Linked DNA regions of Homo sapiens: region 1 is linked to region 2. A link means that fine-mapping ties the variant in region 2 to the expression of a gene that starts in the linked region. Tissue or cell type: gastroesophageal junction. Region 2 holds a variant in brackets; the other region holds the start of a gene. All regions are shown on one strand. Distances are from middle to middle.

What was found. PIP is the estimated chance that this variant, and not a neighbour inherited with it, causes the effect.
Region 1: RUNDC3B starts here. The variant in region 2 is fine-mapped to the expression of RUNDC3B in gastroesophageal junction (GTEx, PIP above 0.99).

What each region holds. Positions count from the first base shown.
Region 1 is chr7:87,625,579-87,630,735 of GRCh38, forward strand. It overlaps RUNDC3B (RUN domain containing 3B), which reads left to right and starts at 2,820. Exons shown (of 11, transcript NM_001134405.2): 1 at 2,820-3,367. The coding sequence starts at 3,246. It also overlaps a transcript of ABCB1 not described here. RefSeq lists an enhancer at 2,575-2,869 and silencers at 2,735-2,964, 3,015-3,064.
Region 2 is chr7:88,090,014-88,095,170 of GRCh38, forward strand. All of the region lies in intron 4 of ADAM22 (ADAM metallopeptidase domain 22), which reads left to right. Among named protein-coding and RNA genes, the nearest start is that of SRI-AS1, 120 kb to the right of the region's middle. The variant C/T (reference allele first, on the strand shown) is at 2,273.

The DNA of each region.
Region 1 (5,157 bases), 460 kb before region 2:
AACAACATCAATTTGAGTAGTATTTGTCATTGCCAGCGCAAATATTTTGCTGAGACTGCCTGCATAACCAGTGCATCTGTTTCCTGATGGCTACTTCTGAATCCAAACTGTTGAACTAGCAAGAAGAGACAAGTTAAGTTGTAGCTCCTAGGAAAAGAAGACTCTTTATAAGCCTCCGTGTCACAGGAGAGCAGACACGTAATGTTCTGGAAGAAGTGCACTGACTAGTCACAAACATCCATATATAGAAATTTCGCCTGCTTTTATTAACTTGAAAGATAAAGTGTAAAGTCTGACTAAATTGTTTTCTTAAAATTTTAATGTATGAATGAATATTTATCATAGCACATTAGTTAAGACTGACACTATATACGTATGGCTAGAGAGAGAGGAATATATATATATATATGTACATATATATGTATATGTACATATATATATATATAGAGAGAGAGAGAGAGAGAGAGATGGAGTCTCATTCTGTCGCCCAGGCTGAGACATATATATATATATATATATATTGTCATATATATGTGTCATATATATTGTCATATATATGTGTCATATATATTGTCATATATATGTGTCATATATATTGTCATATATATGTGTCATATATATGTCATATATATGTGTCATATATATGTCATATATATGTGTCATATATATGTCATATATATGTGTCATATATGTGTCATATATATGTGTCATATATGTGTCATATATATGTGTCGTATATGTGTCATATATATGTGTCGTATATGTGTCATATATATGTGTCATATATATGTGTCATATGTATGTGTCATATATATGTGTCATATGTATGTGTCATATATATGTGTCATATGTATGTGTCATATATGTGTCATATATATGTGTCATATATGTGTCATATATATGTGTCATATATATGTGTCATATATGTGTCATATATATGTGTCATATATATGTGTCATATATGTGTCATATATATGTGTCATATATATGTGTCATATATATGTGTCATATATATGTGTCATATATATGTGTCATATATATGTGTCATATATATGTGTCATATATATGTGTCATATATATGTGTCATATATATGTGTCATATATATGTGTCATATATATGTGTCATATATATGTGTCATATATATGTGTCATATATATGTGTCATATATATGTCATATATATGTCATATATATGTCAGAGAGAGAGAGAGAGAGAGAGATGGAGTCTCACTCTGTCGCCCAGGCTGGAGTGCACTGGCGCAGTCTCCGCTCACTGCAACCTCCGCCTCCCGGGTTCAAACGATTCTCCTGCCTCAGCCTACCGAGTAGCTGCCACTACAGGCGCGTGCCACCACACCCGGCTAATTTTTGTATTTTTAGTAGAGATGGGGTTTCACTATGTTGGTCAGGCTGGTCTCGAACTCCTGACCTCGTGATCCGCCCGCCTCAGCCTCCCAAAGTGCTGGGATTACAGGCGTCAGCCACCGCGCCCAGCCCATATATTTTTATTCTACTAAACAGAATAGTAGAATAAAATTAGACATGGTAGCTGAAAAGGATGATTTTTTGACTATTTTAAATAGAGATTTTTAAACTTTAAAAACCTCAGAAATTAGGAATTTACAACTTTATTACACAAACGTGCGTTGTTAAAACATTCAAGAGTAACAGTATGCCCTGCATTAACAGGGATAATATATAAGAAAAATAGAGATAGCCACACAAAACTATATATTCTCTGACATTCTTTGACAGAAACTTCAAAAGTAGAGGTGAAAGATACATGGATTTTGGAGCCACTGAAGCCGTGAAATTTCAGTAAAAATTATGTCAAATGTGACTTCAAATTAAATTCGAGAAACATTTATTGAGAACCTGTTCTATGTACAGCACTGTGCTAGGTCCCATAGGGAGAGTAAGTCATTTAGGATTGCACTCTAAAATCTGGGCATATTGGTGCAAAGGGAGGTGAACAGCAGGCGTAGGTGAGTGTCAGAGGACCTGACCCAAGCTGGGACCCTCCTGCAGGTAAAACGGTGGGTAGTGAGAAGCTCTAGGAAGGGGGCGCTTCCGAACACGCGCGTCGAGGAGGGCGTTCCAGGACTCTGAGGGAGCAGCCCAGCTGGACCGAGGCCGCGTCGTTCCTGGGCTTACTATTCCCAGACCCGGACTCCCGATTCCGGAGTCACGGCCCAGGACGCGAAAAGACTCTACACTGGCACCACGCTCCTCCTTAGGCGGGCCGTCAGTCCCGGGTGCGGGCTGCGCTGGAGGCTGAGGTGGGAGCGACATGGTGTGGAGGGGCAAGAAATGTCGGCACTAGACGCGCCAAGAAGGAGATTCTACGAGCAATTCCCCCCTCGGGCCATTGTGTTGCTGTTTATTAGCCCCTGGGAGGGCGTCAGGACAAAAGGAACCCTCCTCCCTTCTTAGTACTTAGGCCCAAGGTCGGGTGTGGGAGCCGGCGCGCTGCTTTCTAGGCAGGCACTGAAGCTACGGCAGCCACGCAAATAGGTATCAGCCGTTAAAGCTTGGCTACAGGCAAGGGGGGGGCAATAGGCCCCTGGCGCTGTGGGGCCCCGCATCCCACAATCCCCGCGGCTAGCCTGTGTGGCTACTGGCGGCAGCTAGCGGGCTGCGAAAGCGAGCCCAGCGTCCTTGACAGCAGCCCACGCGTCGGGGCGGGGCTTGAGCCCGCTGCTTTAAAAGGTCCGCGCGGCCGGCCCCGCCCCTCTGGTGCCGCGATTGGATCCGGCGGGGGTAGCGTTGATTTGATAGGCGCAGAGAGGGTGGGGCTGCGCACGCGAGGCCGGGGGCCTTGCCGCTGCCTCCCGGGCTGGGGCACGAGTGGCTGCGGAGTGTGGGTGGTTGGGCGTGAGGGGCCGACGGGCTCGCGCGCGCGCCGTCTGCTGAGGTCCCTCGGGAAGGAGGAGAGCGCCTGACGCCGACCCGCAGGCGCAGCCCGGCAGTCGGCGGCGCGCCGAGGGCGGAGGTGGTGCGTGCGTGCGTGTGTGTGTGTGTGTGTGTGTGTGTGTGTGTGTGTGTGTGGAGCTCGGGTGCCAAGGGCGAGCCGTCAGTCCCCGGGTGCGAGTCCCTGCTGTCTTCCACACCCTTCCTCCCTCCAGGCTCCTTTCCTACATCCTTCCCGCGCCCCCACGGTTGCGGACCGAGCGAGAACCCCCTTAAGCAGGTGTGGGGGGCGTGCGGGGTGGCACGAGACAAAAGGGGCACGGGGGTAAGCCCGCCATGGCCTCCCGGAGCCTGGGGGGCCTGAGCGGGATCCGCGGCGGTGGCGGCGGAGGCGGCAAGAAAAGCCTGAGCGCCCGCAATGCTGCGGTGGAGAGGAGGAACCTGATCACCGTGTGCAGGTACGGCAGCGCAGGGCGAGGGGAACCAGCCTCCCGCCGGGGCTGAGAGCTCTGGGCTTCCGCGCGGGTCCTTGGGGGTCCCGGGCATGATGGGCTGCCGCCCAGTGCCCCCGCCTATGTTGCGCCAGCCAAATCTGTGAGCGCGCAGCTCCTTGGACAGGGGCCCGGGTCTGGACACCGTCGCAGCCCTGGACTTTGTGTCAGTTCCAGTGCTGAAGGTACTGGAGGGTAGAGCTTGGGGCGGGGCTGGAGGAGGATTTGTTTTGAATGTGCAATCTAGCGTCAGAGTGAAAGAGGAGGGCAAGGAAGAAGAGCTCTTTCATTTAATGCCCATTCAGCTGTCAGCGAGCTTTGGATAAAGTGGTAGTTACTGTGATTGTTTACTGTGTTGCCCCCAAATCAGAGTGCATTTCGTTGTTTTGGCTTGTTTACATTATCTTCAGCCATTTCATTTCACACGTTAGTTGAGTGCCTACTACATGCCAGCCATTGTGTATGTGAGCGTGTGTGTACTATCCACTTTTCAGCTACAGTGCTAGTGCTGGTTCTGCAGTTGTTATTAAGAGTGGGACTGTGGAGGATACCTAGTCTTTATGTCAATGATTTATTTTAAGGCCTGCCTTTCCTTAATGCTTTATAACTGTAAATGTAGTATTTCCTTCAGAAAAATATAGAAACAATAAAAGAATAATTACTATTGGGCCGGGCGCGGTGGCTTACACCTGTAATCCTAGCACTTTGGGAGGCTGAGGCGGGCGGATCACGAGGTCGGAGTTCGAGACCAGCCTGGCCAACATAGTGAAACCTCGTCTCTACTAAAAATACAAAAAATTAGCCGGGCGTGGTGGCGGGCTCCTGTAATCCCAGCTACTCGGGAGGGTGAGGCAGGAGAATCGATTGAACCTGGGAGGCGGTTGCAATGAGCTGAGATAACGTCATTGCACTCCAGCCGGGACCACAGGGGGAGACTTCGTCAAAAAAAAAAAAAAAGAACTATTTATAGTAAGCCTAGTATTCAGAGATAACTGGTTTTTAACATGCTGATATATTTTCTTTAAGTCTTATATCTGAGTATTAAGAAAAATTGAAACCCTAAGCATCAATTTCTTAGGAACTTCTCTGAGCCATTAAGTTGTTTTAAAATTACTTTCCTCCATCAGACTCCTAATCATCACCTAGTGATATTCCTCTTAAGAATCAGATGATGATGAAACTTTTTCTTCCTTTGCAATTTCTCTGTATTTTTCCGTTATTTTTCTTGTGTAAAAATGTGTCTAGCATCTTAAGTGGAATACAGATAATTATTCCAGGACTTAAATGCAATAACTCACAGTGACTTTTTAAAAAATACTTGAATTATTACAAATGTTTATCTAGCAAGAAGACCTTCTTCATTGACTGTATTTGTATAATGTAATTATTACAGCACTTTGAGTTGTAAATGGTAAAGTAATATGGTATCCGTTTAATTTGCCGTTTGTGCTGTCTAGGATGTAACTTTTTGAGACAAATAGGCTGTTAGGTGTTTTAAAATATAGGTAAATATCTTTAAAGTAGGTAAATGGAACCATAAGCAAGGCTGATTTTCTTAACCATAATATACAGACATCAAAAATTGCTTTAAAAATAAGGGTAGTTTCAACATATACAGTGCTTCTTGGGGGGTAACATATTTAATAAAAGCTCTATCAGCTTTTGTTAAACTTCACAAGGGCAGTGATTCTATCTGCTTTTTGCTTAGTCTTTTTTTTTTTTTCTTTCAAATTCTCAGTATAGCATCTAACACTCAA
Region 2 (5,157 bases):
GGTGAGTTTTGGTCTCCATTTTGTCTGCTAGGGAACATAGATTCTTTAACAGTGTGTGTGTAAATACAGTTGATTAAAATGATCACAAACAATTAATGAAGCAATGATAGGGTTGTTTGGCAGATGTGACTACCTGTATGTTAAAATCTGTTTTTATGTTTTCCTTGCTGCACTTGCTGGGAGATTTAGGTTAAGGACTCTTGCTGTTAAGCTTAAACTCTGAGAGCAGAACTTTTGGTGTGGAACAAAGAGAACCCTCAGGTGCAGGTGTTACAGGTTGTGGCATGAGCATGCAGGTACCTCACATAGGTTCTCTCAGACAGGAGAGGAAATTTTGGATGGTATAGCTATGAACATGGTGTCTTTCTATGCTAATCAGAACCAAGTTAACCACAAATACACAGATTTTAAAATTAGGTGACTTGCAAAAATTTATTTTCAAGACCATTCTCTGAAAAACAGTTTGGCCACGACTTAATGTCAGTTTGACTAGTAATGAAACTAAAATGACTTTAAAAATATTTATCAATACATCTTCATACATGAATATTTAGTTGTTAGCTGTAGGTAGGCTAGCTTTAAACATTATTATATTTTAATGACTCCATTCTCCCCTAATTACTGAAATAAAATGATTTTTTTAAAACCTCAGGATATAAAGATCCTACAAGAATAAGAGCTCAACTTTCTAAAAGTGATTCCATAAGTAGGGTTCACCATATGGTAATTTAATGAGAAATTATTGAATTGAATTTCATGGTGCTTATGGGAAACAATATTAAGATCTTCTGATTTAGAGATGATTCTGTAATTGCAGATAGGGCCAACACAGGAAACCGTGTCCCTTGGTTCCTGTGGGTTTGAGCTGTTGCCCATTTTTAAGTACTTTCATTTTTAAATAGTGAATTGTGTCAGAGGAATACTCATTAATTTTCTCTGTTACTCGTTCAAGAACTGTGATATTCTCACAGAAGTATTTTAAATACTGAACAAAAGTTTATCTGGAAATATTATAGTTTTGATGGTTAGTATATGTAAGTCATAGTGAGCTAGCTTCATTGATTAATAATTACTGTATATTGCTGTCCTGTAGAAAGATTATGCTTTCATATACTGTCTATTAACTCAGGCTCCCTAACTCAGTCTTAGGGGCAAATAACTGCCGCCAGTAATTTACTGTTAGTCATTTGGAAGAGTTAACCTTTTCTCCTTACAAATCCAAACTCATTTTGCTTACTTAAGGCTACTGATGGATTATTCTTTTTAGTTAATGACACTCATCTTAATGGAATTAAAAAATATAATGACTTGTTGTATTTCTGTTTTACATCATTGTCAAAGTCTTGTATTTTTACAAATAAATATTATATATTCCTATAAGTGCTCACTTTAACACCAGGGATTTCCTGTATTATGCAATCTGTATGTCTTTCAATCCTATGATATTCAGATGAGATCAATACTAGTAACTGGATTTAGGATTAATAAAAGTACTGGTAGCAGTTGGAGTAATAGCAAATACTTGTATGGTATTTACTATGTGCTAGATGCCAGTCTAAGTGTTTCACATATGTTAAGTCATTTTATCCCCAAGTAATACCACTGTTATCCTCATTTTGCAGATGAGGAAATGAAGGCACAGAAAGTTTAACTAACTTGCCCAAGAATTTTAAGAAAGGAAGTCTGGCACCAGAATGTGTGCTATAATCTACTGTAGTTTATCCTCCCTATGGAAATAAATGATCATAATAGCAGAGGAATTAGAATGCAAATATTTTAATTACAGCCCTTCTACAATTTACCATTTGTAATTCACCGTCTCTTTTAGTAGTTGTTTTAATAGGCCAGAATTGAAGATGTGTTAGTTCAGGTGAGTCCCAATTATTCCAATATAAAATTTTCTTTATTCCAAAGACCAATGCCTTCTAAAGACTCCCCCACCCCCCGCTTTTTTTAAAAACTATTTCATTTTGGAGTTCATTTTTAGTCCTTCTTTGTTCTTCATAGAAGTTGGATTGTGTATTGTTCAGCACAGGGGAGCACCATCGCTTCAAATCATTATAGTTTGAAATATGTTACTGTCTTGCACATGGCAAACACATGGCTCAGTTTATGCCCATCTTTTGCCTATGTGTAAATTTATCTGCATCTGGAGTAAATGTGAAGTTTTATGGGCAAGAGTAACTAAGCTGAAACATACCATTATCCTGCCAAGAGACTAGAAGATATTTGATTGTATCTCTGCCAAAGAGCTTCAAAATACCCATCCCCC[C/T]TACCTCTTTTACCCTCCGTTCCACAACATACACAGCCCGCAAGCAGGAAGAGAGTAAAAGAGCCATACAAATCTAACAAACAAACTGATAAAGTGTTTATTTCCTCCTCACATGTAATATCAGTTATTCCAGATATGTTTCCTAACTTTACATGTAACATCAGTTATTCCAGGTATGTTTCCTAACTTTACTTTTTATCTGCCACTAGGCATCATTTAGTATCTTCTGGATGAGCTTATTGATGTGTGCATTTCCCCCCTGGCAGGCTTATGCAGACATATGCTCCTCTGCCATCTTGTAATCAGTGTGGTTTCAGGAAGGTCTCAGATTTCATGATTTAATTCTCTTTGCATTATAGGAAAAAAATTTGGGGGGATTAAGTAAATTTTGCTTTCTCTTGGGACTGAAGCAAGGTTGCTCTAGGTCCATCATCATGTATAATGCATCAACTGCCTTAATGGCATTGTTAAGATTGCAAGTGGTCTTAACTCTGTATCCTGAGGAAAATATGTTGGCCCATTGCCAGTTTATACAGGTCAGGTGTCTTAGTGCTGGAAGAAAGGAAAAATGAAAAGTGACAGCTGCTGTCAGCATGAGTTCTGTTCCTAAGCTCTGTTTGTAACCTATTTGAGTAGAAAGTCCTTTATTTTCTTTCTGGTATAAGATTTTTTTTCCCCCAGTTAACTATCTAAAGAGTTATTTCATCTGTTAATGTTCAAGATGTTATCTATAAACTTAAAAGACATATTCAGCCATAAGTTTTTTTAAAAATCAAAGTAGCACTAACTGATGATATTTCCATGTATGGAACTAATTAGCTATTTTATAATAGAATTTACTATTTTAATTCTAATTATAGAACTAACCTTTTCATTATAGAATGTCTTTTCCAAATCTACTCTTGCAATTTTTTTGAAACTAGAGTGAACTATTACAGTAATTATAATTGAACAGAAAGTAGTAGAAATACTGTTTTTGATTTTAAACTGGTTTGAAGCAAAAAAAAAAAATCACAAATTATTCCCTTGGTGTTGTCATAAGCTACAATTATTTTCCTATTCATTAATAAAAATACCTTAGTTTCCAGTGAATAAGGTGTGGCCACTATAAAATCAGAAAAGGTAATAAAGACCAGAGAATATATACTATTGGTATTGAGTGGTTTGAGTGTTTACAGCCTTTTTGAAGGAGGATAATTGATCAGTGCTACATTTGATGTTTTTTGTTTTGTTTTGTTTCTTTTTTTCTTTCTTTTTGTTGTTGTTGTTTGTTTGTTTTGAGACAGGGTCTCACTCTATCTCCCAGGCTGGAGTGCAGTGGCGCAGTCTTGGCTCGCTGCAGACTCAGAGTCCCAGGCTCAAGTGATTTTGCCACCTGAGTCCTAAAAGTAGCTGGGACTACAGGTGCATGTCATCATGCCCGGCTAATTTTTGTATTTTTAGTGGAGATGGGGTTTCACCACGTTACCCAGGCTGGTCTCAAATTCAAGTGATCTACCTGCCTCAGTCTCCCAAAGTGTTGAGATTACAGGCATGAGCCACTGCATCTGGCCACATTTGATATTTTATCATAACACTATTTTCTTTGCACCTATGAGGTAGAAAAAGAGCAGATGGACTTGATTTTCCCCATAGCCACTCATAAAAACTCAGGCATGTGGAGTTTAAGTGGCTGGAAAGCTGACATGAGAGATTTACAGTGGAATAGAAAAAAAGCCATAATTCTCAGATACTCAATGTGTGTTCTCAACCCTCATTTATTCAATAGACATGAGTTGAGTGCTTGCCAGGGGCCAGTGACAGGGATATAGCTATAAACAACAGATGATGCATTTCTTGCCCTCATGAAGCTTGTCCTTTAGTAGGAGAGACAGGCATGATGCAGGCAACTACTGAGAACTCTTTGTAAATGATAGAAATGATAAGTGTTGAAAAGAATTACATGTTGCTCTGAGGGCACTTGCTGGGAGACCTGACCTCATCTGGTTGGTCAGGGAAGACTTTCTTGAGGAAATGATATTATTTCCAAAGTTCAAAAAATAACAGGTGAATGAAATGGGAGCAGAACAACTTTTCAGGTAGTCAAATCAGCATGTGCAAAGGCCAGAGGCCTTGATGCAGGATCTTGGTGTGTGAAAGGGGCAGAAAGAAACCAGAGAAGGTGGACAGAATAAGAGGTGGAGCAAGTGCACAGGAAGAAAAGGGATGAAAGTAGGAGGATGGTATTTGACCAGAGCCTCAACTCAGAAGAATCAGGTACAATGTAAAGGAAATCAGACTAACAGTGTTTTTGGACTTCCTACATTGGTCACTTTTTGCCTTCGTTTTCTCTTCTCTTGAAAATCTGGAAATTATTTTCTAACTCTGTGGATGGCAGAGTGGTTGCTTTGGTAATTCTGAGTGGGGTTAATAGGTATTCCACATAGCAATTAGATTTTTGGACAGAGTAAATGCTATTTTCTTGAAGTCCTGCTGTCTTTCTGATTAAATAAAAAAAATAAACTTCTTGAATTGTGTTAACAAATGGTACCCATTTTTTGGTTGTTATTTTTAACTCCAGGACATATCTGTGGTTTGAGGACAGTAAAGCTTAGAGACCATGAATATTGTGAGGGCTAGAAGGACCTAAACTCAAATCCTGACTTTGCCAGTTAATATACGTACGTCCTTAGACAATTTACTTATGCCTCCTATACTTCATTTTCCTCCTCTGTTAAACAAGACAAACATGTAGCTCAGAGCTTTGGGTGTGGGAAATACTCCATAAATATTAGTTCTGATATCATTATTGAGGTAAAGTGGCAATTTGTACAGAATTTCTGGCAAAGTCTTTGGTGGCTTCTACCCATTCTTACTGCTAGTTTCTGATTCCACTCATGACAGGA